3 linked regions of the Homo sapiens genome follow. The protein of the gene in region 1 interacts with the protein of each later gene in a biochemical or structural test. Each region holds a gene or a part of one and is shown on either strand. Other genes may lie near its edges. The genes, in order: CDC25C, FAM20C and FHL1.

Region 1 (3,651 bases):
GGCAGGGAAGAAAAAACGATGTCTAGAAAAGGGGCTTAGATGAGGGATTAGATACAGAACTATCTTAGTGATGAGGTGGCTCCGGAGAGGCTAGATTTAACTTGGAACGACGGATGGCCTAAGGTTTAGATAAAAAGTACCATGGCCTCCTCGGAATAAGGGCTTAAAAGCTAGACTAAGGGGGAAATAAGAAATTAATCTACACTTGCATGTAAAGTGGTAAAAAAAAATCCATGAACAAGTTATGCAAGTTATCCCTACCTGTTAAAACAAACAAACAAACAAACAAAAAACTCCTAAATCCCTTACACTACAGTAAGGGTAATTTTTGTCCTCAAAATGATCAACTGAACATGAGAAATAATGATGACCTACTGTGGAAGATTTGGAGCTGGGTGTCTGTCCTAGGGCCAAACTTTAATAAGAAAAAACAAAAACAAAGAAATTTTCTCCCCTATAGTAATACAGTTTCCTTGTCTAGCATACGAGGTATAAACAGTTCTATGTCTCATTATGATACCAAGTTTCTTCACTCAAAAAATAAAACTGCCAATATATCTAGGTTTCCATTAAACACTCACATTTTCTTTATTTGCAGATGAACTACACATTGCATCTCTCTTTCTATGGCCACGGTCCAAACCATTCGGAGTGCTACAAAGAAGCTGTGCCTAAAAAAGAGAGTTTGCTGAGAACGTCCAGCATCCTCAAGCCACAGGTGCAATGGAAACCCTCTGCCTCCCACCTGAAAAGCAAAACAAAACCCAAAAAAAGAGAGGCTACTCACTGGGCTACATTTCATTAGGTGCTGGTCATGATTCCTGCAGATTAAAACAAACTGCCTGTCAGGTTAGTCCCAAATACTGTTTGATTATTCTTCAGTGGATTGGTGCATCCCAACATTTTTCTATTTCATTCTAGGAGCCCTATTCCTAGTTGATATGTCTCTTCCAACAACAATACATAGGGTATTCTCTGTGGTAAATATCAAGACTCAAGTGACATCCTGGGGATAAGACCCTCATTTTGCCTGCATAACCATATAACATGTTCCAAAGATGAACGAGTTTTATACAATTTACAATTTACTAATTTTCCAGCACAGTGTATTGGGGCTAATTTTTTTTTTTTGAGACGGAATCTGGCTCTGTCACTCAGGCTGGAGTGGCACGACCTCGGCTCACAGCAAGCTCTGCCTCCCGGTTTCACGCCATTCTCCTGCCTCAGCCTCCTGAGTAGCTGGGACTACAGGCGCCTGCAACCACATTCAGCTAATTTTTTGTATTTTTAGTAGAGATGGGGTTTCACCGTGTTAGCCAGGACGGTCTTGATCTCCTGACCTCGTGATCCGCCCGCCTCAGCCTCCCAAACTTCTGGGATTACAGATGTGAGCCACCGCACCCGGCCGGGGCTAACTTTTTAAAAAAATTTAATTTCTGGCGGGGCGCTGTGGCCCACGCCTGTAATCCCAGCACTTTGGGAGTTCGAGGCAGGCGGATCACCTGAGGTTGGGAGTTCGCAACCAGCCTGACCAACACAGAGAAACCCGTCTCTACTAAAAATACAAAATTAGCCAGGCATGGTGGCGCATGCCTGTAATCCCAGCTACTTGGGAGCCTGAGGCAGGAGAATCGCTTGAACCCGGGAGGGAGAGGTTGTGGTGAGCCGAGATCGCGCCATTGCACTTAAGCCTAGGCAACAAGAGCAAAACTCCGTCTCAAAAAAAAAAAAAAAAAAAAAAGGCTGGGCGCGGGGGCTCACGCTTGTAATTCCAGCACTTTGGGAGGCCAAGGCGGGCGGATCACGAGGTCAAGAGATAGAGACCGTCCTGGCCAACATGGTGAAACCCTGTCTCTACTAAAAATACAAAAATTAGCTGGGCGTCGTGGCATGTGCCTGTAGTCCCAGCCTCTCAGGAGTCCGAGGCAGGAGAATCACTTGAACCCGGGAGGCGGAGGTTGTAGTGAGCCAAAATCGCACCACTGCACTCCATCCTGGCAACAGAGCGAGACTCCATCTCAAAAAAAAAAAAAAATTAATTTCTATCCTCCCTCCATGGATTTCATTATCTATCTGGGTTAGAGCATTTAAAGCAATTCAAGCTGGGCCCAGTGACTCACATCTGTAATCCCAGGACTTTGGGAGGCCAAGGGGTGGGTGGGGGTGGGGCGCTGATCACTTGAGGTCAGGAGTTCAAGACCAGCCTGGCCAACATGGTGAAGCCTCCATTTTTGTATTACTAAAATACAAAAATTAGCCGGGCGTGGTGGTGGACGCCTGTAATCCCAGCTACTCGGGAGGCTGAGGCAGGAGAATCGCTTGAACCCAGGGAGGCAGAGGTTGCAGTAAGTCAAGATGGCACCACTGCACTCCATCCTTGGCAACAGAGCCAGACTCCATCTCAAAAATAAAAATAAATACATAAGTAAAATGCTTGGTATGTGCTAGATACACAGTTTATTTACTCCTTACAATAGCTACTTTATGAGAAATGCTATTATTGTCTCCACGTTACAAATAAAAAAAATTAAGGTCCAATGAAGTTAAAAAAAACTTGTCAGAGTCACAACTGGTGAATGAAGTAGTAAGCCAGGAATCCACACACTGATTCCAGAGCTTATACTCTGTACTTTCTTTTTTTTTTTTTTTCTGAGACGGAGTCTCGCTCTGTCGCCCAGGCTGGAGGGCAGTGGCGCAGTCTTGGCTCACTGCAACCTCCGCCTCCTGGGCTCAAGTAATTCTCCTACCTCAACCTCCGAAGTAGCTGCGATTACAGGCATGTGCCACCACATCCAGCTAATTTTTGTATTTTTAGTAGAGACGGGGTTTCACCATGTTGGGCAGGCTGGTCTTGAACTGCTGACCTCAACTGATCCGCCTGCCTTGGCCTCCCAAAGTGCTGGGATTACAGATGTAAGCCACCGTGTCCGGCCACTCTGTACTTTCAATTACTAAGATACAGCACCTTTCACATACAAATAAAAGCCTATACATAAGTGTAGTATACCATTTTCCTTCATTTCCTTATAGATACTTCTGATTATGATGGTTAAAATGAATAGCCTTCATTTTCACAACACTATTTAGATGTGGAAAACTTAGAAACTGTTCAAGGTAAGGAACTAGGCCTCAAAGCCCACTTATACCCAGTATGAAAGGTTTTGTACTCTGCAGAGTCTGCACAGGATAAAATCTCTATGACCAGTGCTAAAAGGCTTTTGTGTGGGGTTCATTTAACAACAGAACTTACATCCCAGCTAAATGCACTTCCTGAAGTCCTGAAGAATCCAGGTGACCTGCAATCAAATATAAAGAATCAGTAAAAGGAGTTATTCTTGTCCATGCATCCTGTTTTTCCTTCAGATTTTCTTCATTACCAGTAAGCCGTATTAATTTCAAGGACTGAGCTTTTGAATACAAAGCCTCTCGATTGGTACCCATTTCATGGTACAAGGTACAATTTCACAGAAACGTAAGAATTTATATGTGTCACTAAAAGAAATCAAGTGTTGGGAAACACTACACTATGCTACCTATGGAGTTTTTTTTTTTCTTATGGGTAGAAAAGAAAGGTTATCACTCAGAAAATCTGAAATTAGAATTCTGGAAGGTTAACTTATGAAACATTCCTTTTGGAATATTTCATATAAA
Region 2 (3,651 bases), on another chromosome or scaffold:
CTGCAGGGAACGGCACAAGAGGGCTGGCCTAGGCCAGGAGGATGTGATCTGTCCTAGAAGGGGGCTGACCTGCTTGCTGACCCCGCTTGCTGCTGCCTGGCTGGCCTGACTCAGCCACGGCTGTTCCGAGGGCCCTTCTGAGTACGAACTTCCAGTTGGAGGATCTGGGTGAAGACCCAGCTGCTTGAGATAGCAGCCTCTGGCTAGGCCCTTGGCGTGGCCAAGCCAATCAGGCAGGTTTAGAGCCTGGTGCCCCTAGACAGGTCCTGCAACCAAGAACAGGGGTAGCCTTCAAAGGCCAGCCCTGCCTTCCAACCACCGCTCCACAGCGAGGGAAACCAAGGCTCTTAGGGCAGGAGGCTTGTCCGAGATTAGCACCTGCGTGCTCCAGGCTCTGAGTTCTGTCCCCTCAGCTGTCCGGCCCCTGGGTGCTCACTTTAATCTCAAGTCATTCATCTTACTATTAAACGTGAGCCCAGAAATATTGTTGTAATGGAGAACGATGCCTGCGAGTCTCCAAAGCCTTCCCTCGGAACGGTTCCATTAAATCTCTCCTGCTCAGAACCACCCAATCCAATTCATGGAGCGCCACGTGGTCTACAGCACAGCTGGTTAGGGCCAGCGGAGGTTTATTTATAGCTGGGCTCCTGGCTGCCTGGTAACCGGCCATTGCCACCTTTAAAGAGTCTTGGGATATTATCTACCTCTATTCAGCTTGAAATCGGGCATGCAGTGCCTTGGGCTGGGGCTGGCGATAATTAAATTTCTATCATGCACAATTATGGATGCAAAGAATGAATGACATCCCACTGGCATGTGAGGATTCGGGCAGCTTCTGGACTGAAATACAGACTTCATAATTGCTCCATCCAGATTGGGACAAAGACTGTGGTTGGGAGAACATGCCTGAACAAAGAAAAATGACTCTGCAGGACCAAAGTTCTTGACACTGATTGATCTGCCAAAAGGGGAAGAATGAGTCCAGCTAGAATCCAGGACTAACCAGCGGGTGAGCTTCAAGGAACAAAGGGCTTCCGCTGGGTCAGCCCACGAGAGGGAGCTGCCTGCAGGTACCTGGGAGGGCACAGCCACCGTGTCTGTTCCTTGGGAGCAGGGCTCCTTGGAAGGCAGCGCCAGCTCCAGAAAGGCCACTGTTCCCCCTCCCACCCACCCCAGGTGGCAACTGCCCCTGCAGGTCACGGTCCCAGGGCCTCGCTCGGCCGGCCTAGAGAGAGAAAAGGGAAGATGCCCAATTAGCTGGACGCCCATGGCCCCAGGGCTGGGGGACCTTGGGTTATCCTGAAAGAAGGACAATGACCACCTGCAAAGGACGATTTCAAGTGGAGCCTGGAGGAGGCGGCAAATAGCTCAGTCCGCACTCAACTCCCTTCCCAGCCGTCTGGTGGAAGGTGAGGAGCAAAAGCTCATGCTGCTGAGGCCTGGGGCCACCCAGGCACCGGCCTCCCCGTGCTGAGCAGAGACAGCAGCCCCCTAGCTGCAGGAGTGTGCCCCGATGCGCACCTGCCGACTTTCCTTCTGATGCAGACATGGTCCCCACTGGGGCAAGGCTGCAGTTTTCTTTTAAAAAACAGATCTTTCAAAATAAAAGGGGCCTTGAAGAAAATCGTGGAATAAATAACAGTCTGGGGTGGAGGCGGTTCTGGCGAAAGTGTCCTGAGGGTGGTGTGTGATGGACGGGACTTTGGGCAGTGCTGATGGGGCCTTGCCTGTCACTTGAGGCCTCCAGGAGAGTCGAGGACTGGCAGATCCAGGTCCAGAGCAGGTGCAGGCTCCCAGCTCTTCCAGCCCCTTACCTCGCAGTAGGTTCCCACAGTTCTAGCCTCCTTGATGCCAGCCCCAGGGTGCCCACTGCTGGCCAACTATGTCCTTTTCCTCAAAACCAGGTCCCTCGGTGCCCAGGGTGAATGGGTATATGAGCCTGGGTGTGGGCACCCGGGGTCTGGGACACCGAGCAGACCTCTCTGGCTTGGAGATGTGTGCGGTGGGAAGAACAGGGTGACCTGAGCTCTCCCGGTGTCACATTCTCCACATCTGAGCCCTCTTTGGGTGAGGCCCTACTTCCAGCACACACAGCTGTCCCCATTCGTCTTCAGGAATAACTGACCCTTGAGGCCAGACAGTGGCTGTGAAGAGCAGGGGGACCGCCTGACCGTGACCCCCAAGGACAGACGCTGGCCCTCTTGACGGACGAGATGACCAGGGCCAAAGGCGGCAACATGGGGGCCCACGCTGACGGCAGCATCTCACACCTGGATGTGTTTCTGTGGTCCACAGGTCTGTAGGAGGTGGAACTGGTTAATTTAAAGTCAGGTTGGGGTTGTTGTTAGAAAGGGTTCCTGCTCCCACGAGAAACCAAGGATGAGTGGTGGCTGCACCCAGTCTCCATCCCCATGAGCACCCTGCGGGGTGTTGGGACCCCCAGGCCCGGGCCACACACCTCTCTCTTTCAGGGCCGTCTCTCCCTGTCTCTCCAGACCTGCTCTGGGTTCTTCCTTCTAGAGCTTCCCAGTGGGTTGCCGGAGCTGTCTGGGGTTATGTGGCTTGCCTAAGGCCACACCGATTGGGGCCTGGCACCAAAGTCCATTAGTATTTCTGTGACAGCAGCCATCTTTCTATGTAAGACGCTTATTTCATAAGAAATGCCAGCATCTCTTGGAGTCCTTCTGAGGAGGCAACTGCATACGAACATCGCCTCTGTCTCGTGCTGTGACCCGGGGAGAGACTGTGGGCAAAACCCAGTGGCGTCCGAGGGTCTGTGTGGCCCCGAACTCTTAGTGCTGACAGCAACATGAAATAATGAAGGCACAGGGCACTCTGTTCGTGCATGTTAACTTGTGTAACTAGTGCACGTTAATCACATTAACTAGCCATGTTAACTAGTGACGTAGATTAATAATGATGAATCAATAGGAATGAGTCCTGTATACTGACGGATATCCGGGCGATAGGATTCTTCAGCGAGGCCGGGGAAGAAGCAGACTGTCACCTTTGGTCTAAAGTTGGTGGGTTAAGTGGTGGGAGGTGCTCAGGGCAGGTGGCAGGAAGGGGAGAGCGTTCCAGATGGGGAGAACCTATTTGAAAGGCAGTGGACATCTTCCCATGTGCATAGAGAGGACGGGTGGCCACTGGGCGAGATTGCACTGGGGAATGGGGCTTGTGGACATCTTCCCGTGTGCATAGAGAGGACAGGTGGCTGCTGGGTGGGATTGTACTGGGGAATGGGGGGGCCCTATGGATATCTTCCAGTGTGCATAGAGAGAATGGGTGACTGCTGGGTGAGATTGCACTGGGGAATGGGGCCCGTGGACATCTTCCTGTGTGCATAGAGAGGACGGGTGACTGCTGGGTGGGATTGTACTGGGGAATGGGGGGGCGCTATGGATATCTTCCCATGTGCATAGAGAGAATGGGTGGCTGCTGGGTGAGATTGCACTGGGGAATGGGGCTTGTGGACATCTTCCCGTGTGCATAGAGAGGACGGGTAGCTGCTGGGTGGGATTGTACTGGGGAATGGGGGGGCCCTATGGATATCTTCCAGTGTGCATAGAGAGAATGGGTGGCTGCTGGGTGAGATTGCACTGGGGAATGGGGCCCGTGGACATCTTCCCGTGTGCATAGCGAGGACGGGTG
Region 3 (3,651 bases), on another chromosome or scaffold:
ATGACTTGCTCAGAGTTCTAAGCATCCAGATGATAAAATAATCCACAGCTCACCAGTGAAGATAGAAGTAACAAAGGGTGTTGAAAATGTCAGACAATGAAGTCACTGGCCACTGTATCATTCCTATAGTACATGGTCTTAAACCAAGCAAAAGGAAAATTAAATGAATCAACCCCAAGTTAATAGTACCCATAAGAAGAGTTTCATCTCTTGGTATTTTTGAATCCTAGCTTTAGGCAAGATTTTTTCACTCTGAGTTTGAAAACTCTAGGGTCACCTTACACCTTAGATTCCCCACCACTCTATACTTAAACCTGCAGTCTGTATCCAGATGGAGAATCATTTCAAAGGGCATATTCTTTTAGAATACATTTCTACAATTCACTTGAGTCCTTTTAATGTGTGTGGAAACAATTAGTCTAGATAAAATAGGCACTTCTAGGAATGTTGGATTTGTTGCATAATAAGTAAACAGGCTAGAAATACTTAAAGTATGTTAACAATGTCTATGTCAAATTCATGAACTTTCGTATTTGTTTTGCAATAAATCAAATTAAGTGGAACTCTGGGCAACCTGAATTAGCTTACGTCACGTACTTCTAAATTTATGATTATTTGTTACAAAACAATTTCAAACCCTCATGCACGCAGTGTGCTCAGGATGAAGTTGGAGGAGATACTGATCACGTCACAATTTTGTATAAAATATGAATGATGTGCTGATGTGCACAAGACCAAAACAACTCTAAAAAGCCAGCTTATAAATGACAATGCTGAGACACACATGCAAAGATCCTGAGTGTGGGCTCCCTGAGTCTGAGCTACTATCAAGCTTTGACTTCATGAGGAGAGAAAAGCTTGCTCTTTCTTTCTTTCTTTTTTATTTTAGACGGAGTCTCGCTCTGTCACCAGGCTGGAGTGCAGTGGCGCAATCTTGGATCACTGTAACCTCTGCCTCCTGGGTTCAAGTGATTCTCCTGCCTCAGCCTCCCGAGTAGCTGGAACTACAGGCATGTGACACCACACCCAGCTAATTTTTGTATTTTTAGTAGAGACAGGGTTTCACCATGTTGGCCAGGATGGTCTCGATCTCCTGACCTCATGATCCACCTGCCTTGGCCTCCCAAAGTGCATTTTACAGGCGTGAGCCACCGCACCTGAGATTACAGGGGTTACAGGCATGAGCCACCGCGTCCATCCCAGCTTGCACTTTCTTTTGTTTGAAATGAGAGAATAGGGAAAAATGAAGATAGCATTTTACCTCTTTGTTGTTGTTGAGACAGGGTCTCGCTCTGTCACCCAGGCTGAAGTGCAGTGGTGCTATCCTGGCTCACTGCAACCTCCACCTCCTGGGTTCAAGCAATTCTCCTACCTTAGCCTCCTGAGTAGCTAGGACTATAGGTGAATGCCACCACGCCTGGCTAATTTTTGTATTTTTAGTAGAGACGGGGTTTCGCCATGTCGGGCAGGCTGGTCTTGAACTCCTGACCTCAAGTGATCTGCCCACCTCGGCCTCCCAACTTGATGGGATTGCAGGCATGAGCCACCATGCCCAGCCAGCATTTTACCTCTTCTTTTGGGCTCTCTTCAACCTTACAGAATTACATGTACTTAGGCATTTATTTCTTAGGGAATAATTTTTTATCCCCTTAGCTATTTCTAAGTACATGAAATGTGAAGGCCTTTAATCTTCCAGAACTTCTAGATATGTCTGCCTTGACCTATTGCTGTTATCCGGGAATGGGAGTGTCAGCCATCATTGAAGGAAACAATTGCTACACATCATCACCATGCTTCTTCCCTTACCACTTGTCTTTGTGGAGGGCATGTTTGCCCTCGGGCAGCTCTTTGACTAATTTTAATGTCTCGGTGTAGCCCTCATCTGTACATAGTAGGGATGCCAGAGTAGGTATTAGACATGAGCAGGGCAAGAGAGGGCCCCCCACCCAACCAGGAATGTCAGGCGGCCATCAGGTGAAGGTCAGATGGTTGTTAAACTATCTCTCGCTAAAATAATAATTGGTTGCAGCTGGCACCAAGGAAACACGGTCCCTAATAGACAGAAACACCTGAAACTGATGCTCAGCCACGTCCCCATGAGATCTCAGGAGGTGGGTAATTGGGCTCAAGCATGTGCACTAAGAGGCAAAATTGCGGTGTTTAACTGGTATAAGACCTACCTCTGGGAATGCTCTACTGCTAAGGGAAAAATCGCTTAAAGTAAGCATGCACACAACTTCAGTAAACACCACGCATGCGGCACTTCCCAAGTGCTGGCAGGCCACTGGGCATGCGGACAGCCCACCCCAAGGGAAGAATCAGGAGAGAAGTAATATAACACCCGAATCATGCCAACATATAAAAGCCCAGGTCAAAGGTCAAACCATGCACTTTTTGAATCTCTCAAGTAGCCTGCTTGGTCATCTTCTAAATGTACTTTACTTTCATTCCTGCTCTGAAACTTTATTTTATTTTTTGAGACGGAGTCTCACTTTGTCACCCAGGCTGCAGTGCAATGGTGCAATCTCTGTTCACTGTAACTTCCGCCTCCCAGGTTCAAGCAATTCTCCTGCCTCAGCCTCCCAAGTAGCTGGGATTACATGCGTGCACCACCAAGCCTGGCTAATTTTTGTATTTTTAGTAGAGACAGAGTTTCAGCATGTTGACCAGGCTGGTCTCCAACTCCTGACCTCAAGTAATCCACCCGCCTCAGCCTCCCAAAGTGCTGGCATTACAGGCATGAGCCACCGTGCCCGGCCTCCTGCTCTAAAAGTTTTTAATAAACTTTCACTCCTGCTCTAAAAGTTGCCTTGGCTTCTCCCTCTGCCTTGTTCTTCCTTGAGGAGGCAAGAAATGAGGTTGCTACAGACCCACAGATTCCCCGCTGCTAACATACTTTGGTGCCGAGTGACTTGGATACATTCCCTAGTGCTAACAAGTGGGGTTTCTCTATGACAGAAAGTTCTGCTCATACACTAGGGGGCCCCAGTACCTAATCCAGGGCTTTGTATACAGGAATCACTCAGTATATGCCTGTTGATTGACAGATGGAGATATGTTACCACAACTAAGTTTCTAAAACTTTGGTATGTGGATAGTCACTGAAAGTGGCTTCTGATCCAATTATCTGAGCCTCTATTTTGTCCATACCAACCCTATTTCAGGACCACACTGATTTCCTTTCTGTAAGGACTTCTTTCTTGGGCCTATTCTCCTCTGCTTTCATGGACTTATGAACCTAATGCAATATGACATACTATTTCCTGATTTTAAAAATCATCTTATATGACGTGTAAGGTGCTGAAGTCTAACCTACACCTTAGGTCCACATAAATGTCCCCTGATTTTCTAAGACAGAAAGCATCATTATTAAATAATTTAATTAAAAATTAACTAAATTAAAGTTTTACAAGCTTAGAATACAGTTAGAAATGTGGCTGGGTGATAAAATTTTAGACATTTATTCCAAAAGGGTAGCCTGACTTTCTATGCCTGCTTCAAAAGACACATCATTTTCACTTAATAAACAAGCTTCCTTTTTCAGAAAATTCTTGAACTACATCCAACATGCTGAGAGGTGCCTAAATAAACCTCAGTATCTTAATTAAAAGTTTTGGCTTTCAATTTAATCATGTACACATACAAGTAATA

The links.
Region 2: of the proteins of CDC25C (region 1) and FAM20C, one has a biochemical effect on the other in vitro, tested with the Homo sapiens proteins (one large-scale study listed by IntAct).
Region 3: the proteins of CDC25C (region 1) and FHL1 form a complex in vitro, tested with the Homo sapiens proteins (one study listed by BioGRID).

Annotation. Positions count from the first base shown.
Region 1 is NC_000005.10:138,325,234-138,328,884, forward strand, and holds part of CDC25C (M-phase inducer phosphatase 3), read right to left. Parts: intron 3,297-3,651; coding exon 3,251-3,296; intron 822-3,250; coding exon 788-821; intron 672-787; coding exon 582-671; intron 1-581. UniProt on the Homo sapiens protein: Functions as a dosage-dependent inducer in mitotic control. Tyrosine protein phosphatase required for progression of the cell cycle. When phosphorylated, highly effective in activating G2 cells into prophase.
Region 2 is NC_000007.14:199,060-202,710, forward strand, and holds part of FAM20C (extracellular serine/threonine protein kinase FAM20C precursor), read left to right. Parts: exon of another isoform or gene 1-1,624; intron 1,625-3,651. UniProt on the Homo sapiens protein: Golgi serine/threonine protein kinase that phosphorylates secretory pathway proteins within Ser-x-Glu/pSer motifs and plays a key role in biomineralization of bones and teeth.
Region 3 is NC_000023.11:136,199,990-136,203,640, reverse strand, and holds part of FHL1 (four and a half LIM domains protein 1), read right to left. Parts: intron 1-3,651.